Regions from separate parts of the Homo sapiens genome. Here all the other regions are linked to region 1. Evidence: fine-mapped expression QTL. A gene starts in region 1. Each other region holds a variant in brackets. All regions are shown on one strand. Distances are between the middles of the regions. Region 1 holds the start of WNT2B (Wnt family member 2B). Region 2 overlaps CTTNBP2NL (CTTNBP2 N-terminal like). Region 3 has its middle 22 kb from the start of MIR4256. Region 4 has its middle 9.5 kb from the start of CTTNBP2NL.

Evidence for each region. PIP is the estimated chance that this variant, and not a neighbour inherited with it, causes the effect.
Region 2: its variant is the best candidate, but not a certain one, in a credible set for the expression of WNT2B in subcutaneous fat (FUSION, PIP 0.81).
Region 3: its variant is the best candidate, but not a certain one, in a credible set for the expression of WNT2B in sun-exposed skin (GTEx, PIP 0.51).
Region 4: its variant is the best candidate, but not a certain one, in a credible set for the expression of WNT2B in aorta (GTEx, PIP 0.51).

Annotation. Positions count from the first base shown.
Region 1 is chr1:112,507,844-112,510,343 of GRCh38, reverse strand. It overlaps WNT2B (Wnt family member 2B), which reads right to left and starts at 1,379. Exons shown (of 5, transcript NM_024494.3): 1 at 900-1,379. The coding sequence starts at 1,081. RefSeq lists enhancers at 144-643, 1,568-2,111 and silencers at 743-1,037, 1,031-1,140, 1,201-1,280, 1,341-1,450, 1,461-1,590.
Region 2 is chr1:112,407,536-112,410,297 of GRCh38, reverse strand. All of the region lies in intron 1 of CTTNBP2NL (CTTNBP2 N-terminal like), which reads right to left. Among named protein-coding and RNA genes, the nearest start is that of CTTNBP2NL, 13 kb to the right of the region's middle. RefSeq lists a silencer at 2,358-2,545. The variant G/TTTG (reference allele first, on the strand shown) is at 1,171.
Region 3 is chr1:112,483,016-112,485,515 of GRCh38, reverse strand. It overlaps a transcript of WNT2B not described here. Among named protein-coding and RNA genes, the nearest start is that of MIR4256, 22 kb to the right of the region's middle. The variant C/T (reference allele first, on the strand shown) is at 1,090.
Region 4 is chr1:112,385,305-112,388,058 of GRCh38, reverse strand. No RefSeq gene overlaps it. Among named protein-coding and RNA genes, the nearest start is that of CTTNBP2NL, 9.5 kb to the left of the region's middle. RefSeq lists enhancers at 1,189-1,723, 1,724-2,259. The variant C/A (reference allele first, on the strand shown) is at 1,214.

The DNA.
Region 1 (2,500 bases):
TCCCCATGGTGGGGAAGAAGGGAAAGCAGCTCCTTCTCCTACGGGAAGGTGATGAGTGCCATCCAAGGAGTAGGGGGCAGGGAGGATTCTAAAAAGAACAGACACGAGACATCCAGTGGATCTGTAATGCCTTTTTGCCTCATCTGCCCTCTTGTGAAGTGTCTGGAGTCTAGGGCCTGCAAGAAATCTGGGGAGGGGGTCTCTTAGTATCTTGGGACTCCGCAGCCCTCTGGCTCTTGGAGGGGAGAAATGGGAGATGGGAAAGAATAGGAAGAAGGGAGGGAGGCAAAGTTTCCTAAGTGACATCCTCAAAACGGTGGCTGAAGACAAATGCCTAGATAATGCAAACCCATGCGTTTTGTTTGTTTTAATTGTGGGAGTTAATGGGGTAAATTTTGCCTCGATTCCATTTCTAAGCCTCGGCTGGGTGCTGCTGCCTCACCAAAGCCTTCCTGTGGTATGGGTGGGCTAGACTAGCGAGCTGCCCCTTTCTCCACCTCTCAGAGGGCGACCTTAGGCGATTGGGGCCCTGGCGAAGCTATTGCGGGCCCTGGAAGGTTATTCGTTCCTTGAACTCACCCTGAGGGAAACTCGGAAGGTAGCTTCTGCCCTAAGGGGCTTGAGCTGAAATAGAGGGGGTACAGCACGTGGAGGCCTAAGGAGCCGCGACCACCGGGCATCCTTGCTCCGAATGCCCAGCGCCTTTCTCACCAGTCGTGTAAGACGCGGCGCCTCACCCTCCCGCCACCCCGCGACTTCAGATTTCAGTGACAGTCCTGCCCGAATCGTCTCCAACCCGTCGAAGCAACAGCCTGGTCCCGTGAGCAGCCAGTCCCTCCAGGCGCCTCCGGCCTCTCCTACCAAGCGCCTCACCCGCCCAGCCTGAGAGCCACACTTACCACCAGGACGTGTCTACGCGGGCCGGCAGCGTCAGCAGCAGCAGGAGCAGAAGGCAGGCAAGACCTAGGCGGGCCGAAGCCCGGGAGCCGTCGGGGGCCGCGGGCGACGGCACAGGGACCGGGGCGCTGGCGCGCCGAAGCGGGAGCTGCGCAGCTTCCTCCGCACCACCCGGTCTCAGCATAGCTCCCCGAAGACTCCCGCCGCGCAGCCCGGAGGGGCGTGGACGGGGCACCTTCTGGGGGTACTCAGGCTGCTCCTACCTCACCCCCCTGGGGGGCCATGGTGTTCGCCGGCGGCTGGGGACCTAGGATCACCTGGGGTCCAGAGCCCGGGAGGAGGATCCCCGAGAGGGGCGCAAGTTGCGATGTCCGGAAGCCGACGACGGCGTGCCGAACCCGGGGTCTGGGGCGCGCTGCCTGAGGACCGGGTGCGGTGTCAGGGGGTCTGCGGCGCTGAAGGGAGCTGCGGGCCTAGTGTGCGGACAGCCCCTTCGGCCGCGGGCTCTCATTGGACGGGACGGGGCGGGGCCGAGGCCGGGGACACGCGCGGCCCTTAGGGCGGCTCCGCCCGCGCCAAGCCCGGGGCGCTCCGCGACGCCCTAGGTGTAGCAGCCGCCTCCGCCCCTCGGGGCTCCCGCGCGCCACCGCGCTGCACCCCCACCTGCTCCCGCACGCTGCGACGGGACGCCGCGGCTCCCTCCTGCGCCCCAAGCGCCCAGTCCCTGCCGACACCGCGCCACCGGGTCCTAGCGCCCTTCACTCAGCAGCCCCACTTCTATGGGTGACGGCCAGGCTGGCGGAGCGGGAAGGGGATGCGGGCACTTCCCTCCTGTCCCCAACCTACAGTGACACCGGCGCTGAGCACGGAGGATGCACTCATTTCCTCCATCCTTGCGCTTCTGTGAAATGGGTAGAGTCCCTGCCACCGGGAGTTGGAGGTCTTAACTACCTTTTCAACACTGCCTACAGGAGCGCCGTGGGCAGTCGGCTTCTAGCAGGGGATGCTTTCAGCTAGAGCTCATCGCCCCTGCTTCTTCTGAGCCACTGCACCCCCCACCCCCAATGCATCACGTTTAGACCTGGCTCCTGCTTGCCCGGCCTGCCCGGCCCGGGTGCTTTTCTTTACGGACCGGGAATCGACTGCCGACGCTAAGGGGGCACCTGCGGACTCCCCGCCCCTTACTCCTGGGCTCAGCGGAGCTCAGTCTCTCCCCGCTCCCCCTCTGTGCCTCGGTCCTCCACCCTCTCGGGCGGGGCTGAGAGTATGAAAGAATCAGAAACAGCTGGGAGGTTTTCCCGCACCAGAGGCCAGGGTGGGGGTCCTGCCGAGAGAGTGGAAGCCCTGGAGCTTTTTCCCTCCTTCGTCTTCTCGCCCTGCCTCCTCCCCACTGCTCCTTCACCCTCCCTCCGCCCGCACAGCGCCTGGGGGCGTGGTAAATAGGGAAGGGGTGGGGAGGTGCAGTCTGCCGAAAGAGACTCTCCTCTCCCCACCACCCCAACCCTCAAACCTCCCAGGATAGCAGGTACGGGCCCTGCGGGCACTGTGGCCCTCCGTCAGAAGTAAAATTCTTTTTAAAATCCTGGGCTTAACTTCGAGAGTT
Region 2 (2,762 bases), 100 kb after region 1:
ACCTCAGCCTTCTGAGTAGCTGAGATTATAGGCATGCGCCACCATGCCTAGCTGATTTTATATTTTTAGTAGAGATGGGGTTTCTCCATGTTGGTCAAGCTGGTCTCAAACTCCTGACCTCAGGTGATCCCCCCGCCTTGGCCTCCCAAAGTGCTGGGATTACAGGTGTGAGCCTCCGTGCCCGGCCTACACTTATTTTTATGTTATCAATAAGTGATTTCAAATGAGCCTGCCCAGCATACCATTTGGTGTATTCACAGGTTTCATCCCACCATGAAATCTTAGCCCAATAGCCAGGACAGCATGAGTCTTTTCTAGATGAACTTTCTTGTGCCAACAGTCAGAAGTTATGGGTATCAAAAACTGCATCCCCCCAACTACCCCACTGTGCCTCCTTAACTGTAGTACTGATTTTGCCTAGAAGTATGTTGGTGTGGCTCTGCTCATTTTATTCTGATATTTTCCCCTCTCTGGATACTATCCGAGCTCCACTTATTCTGGTTTCGGTTATGCTTCTTCTTTCTTGAAGAAGTCCCAGTTTCTGCTCTGGAATTCTGACTTAATTCTATAAGATAACAAGCATTGCTGCTGCCATTTTACCATATAGAGACTGAATGGCGGAAAAAGAAACACCCTAAACAGCTTCTATAGCCATGTAAGCAGTAGGACAGGGCAGGACAGGGCAGGGCAGGGTGGAGTACAAGCAAGATGTTTGTCTGTCTATTATCTGGGTGTGAGCATATCTACATAGAACTGAGGCTTTATTTCTTTCCAGGTGGTAGGTTTTTCCACATAAGGTAGGAAAACAACATTTTTAGATGAGGCTTAGATAGCTCCTGACATAGAAATGCCTCAAAAAAATCTATATAGATCTATTTAAATAAATCAACTGGACTAATTTTTTTTAATCAGTAATTTTACCTAGGAGAGCATTCTTGCAACGCTGGATAAAAATCACTTTTTAATTATATACTCAGATATCGAACTTAAGAAATTTATACTCAGCTATCAAATTTAAGAAATTTATATTTGGACTACAAATGACTCAGATTAAGGTCATTCAGTGAGTTTTTAGTATTGGTGAGCAAAGTGATTAGTGATTAGCGAGCAAAGTTATAAAGGAAATTGACTCCAATTATGTAAAGACTCCTTTTTTTTTTTTTTTTTTTT[G/TTTG]AGACAGAGTCTCACTTGGTTGCCCAGGCTGGAGTGCACTGGCACAACCTTGGCTCACTGCAACCTCTGCCTCCGCAGTTTAAGCAATTCTCCTGCCTCAGCCTCCTAAGTAGCTGGGACTACAGGTGCGTGCTACCACGCCTGGCTAGTTTTTATATTTTTAGTAGAGACGGGGGTCTCACCATGTTGGCCAGGCTGGTCTTGAACTCCTGACCTCAAGTGATTCGCCCACCTCAGCCTCCCAAAGTGCTGGGATTATAGGTGTGAGCCACCATGCCCGGCCCGTAAATACTCTTTCAATACATATAAGCCAAGCCAAAATATAGGAGGCCAGTAAATTCTTAAAACTCAAAGAGCCAAGATGGACATGTGAAATGGGTGTTTTTGATAGTTTGCCACTAGATCATGTACTTTTCTTAAAAACCCAGTATACATGAAATAATAATAAAAAAGAAACTTGCCACATTTACAAATACTAAATCTGAATATGAACAGAAATGCACTGCTATTTTAAAAAATGCATTCAAAGCTTCAGTTAATAGGGTTGCTCCTTAAAAAAAAATTAAAATGTATACAAAACAACCTCATATTGGAGGTAGAAGGTGTTGACACACTACCTTGACTATCTCAAAAGATTTAAGATTCTAATTTTTCAGAAGGATTATTTATTCATTTGGGATAAAAGAGTGACAACATTCTAAATGGTCCCTTTCATTCCTCTTTGGCATTTAAGGGTTAGGCTAGGAAGTAAAACATGTCAATGTGCCACTAGAAAATAATTTTCTGGCTGGGTGCAGTGGCATATGCCTGTAATCTCAGCACTTTGGGAGGCCAAACAGGAGGATCAATTGAGGCCAGGCGCTCAAGGCCAGCCTGGGCAACAGCAAAAAAAAAAAAAAAAAAAAAATTAAAAAAAAAAGAAAGAAAGTAATTTTTTGATTAAGAAAGCAGATCTTTTGTACATTTGTTAAAGAAAGCTGTTTTTGAAGGGCGTGGCTCACACCTGTAATCCCAACACTTTGGGAGGCTGAGGCCGGCAAATCACCTGAGCTCAGAAGTTTGAGACCAGCCTGGACAACATGGCAAAATCCTGTCCCTACAAAAAATGCAAAAATTAGCCAGGCATGGTGGCATGTGTGCCTGTAGTCCCAGCTACTTGGTAGGCTGAGGCAGGAGAATTGCGTGAGCCCGGGTGGTGGAGGTTGCAGTGAGGCAAGATTACGTCACTGCACTCCAGCCCGGGCAATACAGCGAGACCCTGCCTCAAAAAAAAAAAAAAAAAAAAAAGAAAGAAAAAAGAAAGCCGTTTTTGTTACTATTTACAAAAGTTCTAAAATCAAGGTATAATAACTGATCTCATTTTATTCAATTCCAATATTAAACAGTATATATCTCAAATCAAGCTTCTCTCAGATGAAGGTGAAAGATATTACTGGAATATTTGGATTACTATAATACATGTGTTAAATACACATAACACAGGCTGACTTGTACCTCCCAAAATTCATATGTTGAAGTCCTAAGCCCCAGTACCTCAAAATGTGACTGATTTTGGAAACAGGATCTCTAAAGAGATAATTAAGTTAAAATGA
Region 3 (2,500 bases), 25 kb after region 1:
TTTCTATTCCAATAAAACGTAGTCTTCATGACCATAACCTTTTTTTTTTTTTTTTGAGACAGAGTCTCACTTTGTCGCCCAGGCTGGAGTGCAGTGGCACAATCTTGGCTCACTGCAACCTCTGCCTCCTGGGTTCAAGCAATCCTCGTGCCTCAGCCTCCTGTGTACCTGGGATTACAGGCACCTGTCACCATGCCTGGTTAATTTTTGTATTTTTAGTAGACACGGGGTTTTGACATGTTGGGCAGGCTGGTCTCAAACTCCTGACCTCAGGTGATCTGCCAGCATTGGCCTCCCAAAGTGCTGGGATTACAGGCATGAGCCATCATGCCCCCAGGCCTGACGACTATAACTTTATAAAAAGCTTTGAAGTTAGATAGTGACATTTTCTAATTTGTTTTTATTATTCAAAGTTGTTTTGGTTATGTTAGGTCCTTTGCATTTCCATACAAATTTTAGAGTTAACTTGTCAATTTCTACAAAAAAGCCTGTTGGAATTTTCACTGGGATTGCATTAAATCTATATATGAATTATTTGGAGAGCACTGAATTCATAGCCATATTGTCTTCTGATTTATAAACACAGTATATCTCTCCATTTATTTAGAACTTCAATTTGTCTTAGCAATGACTTGTAGTTTTTGTGTATAAGTCTTGCACATCTCCTGTCAGATATCTTTACATTTAGTATTTTTGATGCTATTATAAATAGTATTATTTATTAATTTCTACTTCCATTGCTAATATAAAGAAATAAACCTTTTTTTTTTTTTCAAGAGGGAGTCTTGCTCTGTCACCCAGGCTGGAGTTGCAGCCTGAACTCCTGGTCTCAAGCAATCCTCCCACCTCAGCCTTCTGAGTAGCTAGGACTACAGGCACATGCCAGGCATGGAGTTTGGTGATTTAAAAAATTTAAATTTAAATTTAAAAAATTTTGGGGGCCAGGCACAGTGGCTCACACCTGTAATCCCAGCACTTTGGGAGGCCCAGGTAGATGAATCACTTGAGTCCAGGAGTTTGAGACCAGTCTAGGCAATGTAGTGAAACCTTGTCTCTACAAAAACAAAAACAAAAAAAAAATTAGCCACT[C/T]AGGAGGCTGAGGCAGGAGGATCATTTGAGCCTGGGAAGTAGAGGTTGCAGTGAGCTGAGACTGCACCACCAACTCCAGCCTGGGTGACAAGTGAGACCCTCTTCTCTCTCTCTCTCTCTATATATATGTGTGTGTATATATATATATATATATGTGTATATATATATGTGTATATATATGTGTATATATATGTGTATATATATATGTGTATATATATATAAAATTTTTGGAGACAAAATTATATATAAAAATGATATATATAATTTATTATATAAATTATTATATAAAATTGTTAAAATTATTATATAAAATTATATATATATAATTTTTGGAGACAAAGTCTCACTATGTTGCTCAGGTTCGTCTTGAACTCCAGGGCTCAAGTGATCCTCCCACCTCAGTCTCCTGAATAGCTGAAATTATAAGCGCAAGCCACCATACCTGGCTTTTGTCTTTTTGATAATACTAATTCTAACAGGTGTGAGGTGACATTTCATTTGATTTGCATTTCTCCGATGATTTCATATACTTATTGGCCATCTGTATGCCTTCTTTTGGGAAATGTCTATTCAGGTCCTTTGCTCATTTTAAAGTAGGGTTATTTATTTATTTTTTAAATTTATTCTCTCTTTCTTTTTTTTTTTTTGTTATTCAGTTGTATGAGTTCCTTATATATTTTAAATGTTAACCTCTTATCAGATACATAGTTTGAAAATATTTTCTCCCATTCCTTAGACTGCCTTTTTTCTCTGTTGTTTCCTTTGCTGTGCAGAAGCTTTTTAGTTTGATGCAGTCTCATTTGTCTATTTTTGCTTCTGTTGCTTGTGCTTTTTGTGTCACATCAAAAAAAAAATCATTTCCCAGGCCAATATCAAGAAAATGTTCCCCTATGTTTTCTTCTAGGAGTTTTATGGTTTTAGCTTTTAAGCTTAGATCTGTAATCCTTTTTGAGTTGATTTTTGTATATAGTGTGAGACATGGATCCAATTTCATCCTTCTGCATTTGTATATCCAGTTTTTCCAACACTATCAAGGAGATGATCCTTTTCCAATTGTGTGTTATTGGCATCCTTGTTGAAGATCAGTTGACTATAGATGCATGGATTTGTTTCTGGGAGCTCTATTCTGTCCCTTTGCTCTATATATTGTTTTTATGCAAGTACCATACTGTTTTCATTACTATAATGTGTGTGTGTGTGTATATGTGTGTGTGTGTGTGTGTGTGTGTGTGTGTGTGTGTGTGTATCTATGTTGCCCAGGCTAGAGTGCAGTGGCTATTCACAGGTGCAATCATAGCACACTGCAGCCTCAAACTCCTAGGCTGAAGCATCCTCCTGCCTCAGACTCCACTCCCAGGTAGCTGGGACTACCCTGTATCTGGCTATAATACATTTCAAAATTGGGAAGTGT
Region 4 (2,754 bases), 120 kb after region 1:
TTCTTTTTTCCTTCCTTCCTTCCTTCCTTCCTTCCTTCCTTCCTTCCTTCCTTCCTTCCTCCCTCCCTCCCTTCCTTCCTTTCTTTCTCTTTCTTTCTCTCCCTTCCTTCCTTTCTCTCTCTCTTTCTTTTTCTTCTTTCCTTCTTCTTTCTTTCCTTCTTCTCCTTCCTTCCCTCCCTTCCTTCCTTCCTTCCTTCCTTCCTTCCTTCCTTCCTCTCTCTCTGTCTTTCTTTCTGGTCTTGCTCTGTCACTCAGGCTGGAGTGACAGAGCAAGTGGTGTGATCATAGCTCACTGCAGCCTCCAACTCCTGGGCTCAAGCAATCCTCCTGCCTCAGCCTCCCAGGTAGTGAGCCACCAGGCCTGGCTGATTTTTGAATTTTTTGTAGTTTTACTATGTTGCCCAGTTGGTCTCGAACTCCTGGCCTGAAGTGCTTCTTCCACCTCCACTTCCCAAAGTGCTGGGATTACAGGGGCAAGCCACTGTACCCAGCCAGGACCAGGTTTCTATCCCTGTGTCTCTCAACTTTGCTTCCTCTGTGTTGGTTCTGTTTTAGACAGGCATTCTTCCTCAGCTGGCAATAAGCACAGTAGCTCAGGCTTCATATCTTGTCGTATTCAATAGGAAAGAGCACCTGCTCTTTTCCAGAAGTGGGAGAAAGATCCCACTATCTCCTTGGCTCTGCTTGGACTGTGTGTTCATCCCTGAACCAGTCATCGTGGCCAGGGATAGGCTGCTTTTATTGGCTAGATCTAGGTCATGTGCCTGCAGACATGGATGAAGAGTAGGAAAAAGTTATAGCCTCAAATGTTATCTGTCTGTCTGTCTATCTATCTATCTATCTATCTATCTATCTATCTATCTATCTATCTATCATCTATCCATCCATCCATCTATTATCTATCTATCTATCTATCTATCTATCTATCTATCTATCTATCTATCTCTATTACCAGAAAAAGTGGGGATGGATGTTTGGGAAGAAAATAGTATGTACTATGTACTTGAGAGTTTGTTTCACATTTGCTCTCATTCACAGGTCAGCTCAAGCTGGCATCTGTCCAGCTCTGGCTAAGCCTGGGGCTTTTATTGGCCTCAGAGGGGAGGAAGTGCATGTCAGTTGGTCCATGGGCAGCCCGGAAAAGGCACCACAAGTCCCCACTAGGGTCAGAGGGACTGGTAGCCTGGCCTCCAGCCTTTGGGCCCTCCCTGGC[C/A]TAAAGGTGAGGCCTCACCAGGGACCTGCCCCCTTCCACCCAGGAGCCTATCTGCCTCCTATTGCCATCCATGGTGACCAGGCTGCTCCCACCAAGGGGCACCTGCAGGCCAGCTCCAACCTGCCCTCTGCCCCACCTCAGCTCCCCCCACCCCATTGCCCCCCGCAATCTGCCTCAACCCTGCTCTGAGATCAGAGTGGGCACCAGGAGTGGGGAAAGGCCAGGCAGTAGGAGCAGACACCCTCGAGCCTGTGGAGGCAGCAGGAGCTTTCCTGGGCCCCTGAGGGTGCAGAGTACAGAGACACCCAGGTCCTGTGTCTGGGAGGGCGGGGCTGTCACCCAATCCCTGGAGCATGCATGCAGCTCCGGTGGCATCTCCTTGCAGTCTGGGGTGGGGGACTCCAGGTCCTCACTGGACCCCTCTCTGCCCACCCCTGCATGCCCAACCACCCTCCTCCTCTGCCAGTGGGTGGCTCGGCTGGCCTCACTGTGGCGGCCCCCAAACAGTGGGCTCTGGGCATGCTCCCACTTGTCCCTGGCTCCTGCTGACTCCCTTGGAGCACAGCACTGCCCTAGGCCCAGCTATCCCTCCTCCCCCTACCCTTCCTGCAGGGGCGCCACGCAAAAGCCGTGATGCGGTGCCAGGGTCCAGAGTTGCAGAAGCTCCGGGCCTGGGAGTGGGTCCCACCTGGCCATGCAAGGGTGGGGGCGGTGCAGTCAGTTGTCTCCAGACATGGGGCACAGGGGACCCACCACCACCATTGCTGCTCTCACAGCTACTTCTGCCACCACCACTTTCACCTCCCTGCGGCAGTTGGCGCAGTGGCAGTGGCTGCTCCAGATGGCCCACCACTGACATCAATATCACCCACAAGAGAGAGTTTGCCTTTAATGTATATCAGACAACTGTATAAACATTTGACCAGAAATTTACATGATTTATGTAATACAAAGTTCTATTCCAGTCCAGTTTTATAACAATTTTTCTTTTAAAACAGAAAATTTAAAATTTAGTATCAGTTAATACTGTTTGTAGAAAGCCATGGACCATCCCATTTCAAGGAATTCCATTAGACTTCATCAGTCCTGTTTCTTTCTTTCTTTTTTTTTTTCCTTTTCTTTTTTTAGATGGAGTCTCTGTCACCCAGGCTGGAGTGCAGTGGCAGTGGCGTGATCTCAGCTCACTGCAACCTCTGCTTCCTGGGTTCAAGCGATTCTCCTGCCTCAGCCTCCCGAGTAGCTGGGACTACAGATGTGGGCCACCACACCCAGCCAATTTTTGTATTTTTAGTAGAGACGGGGTTTCACCATGTTGGCCAGGCTGGTCTCCATCTCTTTACCTCATGATCTGCCCTCCTTGGCCTCCAAAGTGCTGGGATTACAGGCGTGAGCCACCGTGCCCGGCCACTCCTGTTTCTTCATTAATTTCTAACGCCACTTCTCTCCAGACCCTGCCTCCCATCTTCTCTTCCAGACATAACCCCCTTCTTAAAGCAAATTCATTCAACAAAATATGTTGAGTACCTGTGTTCTAGGCACTA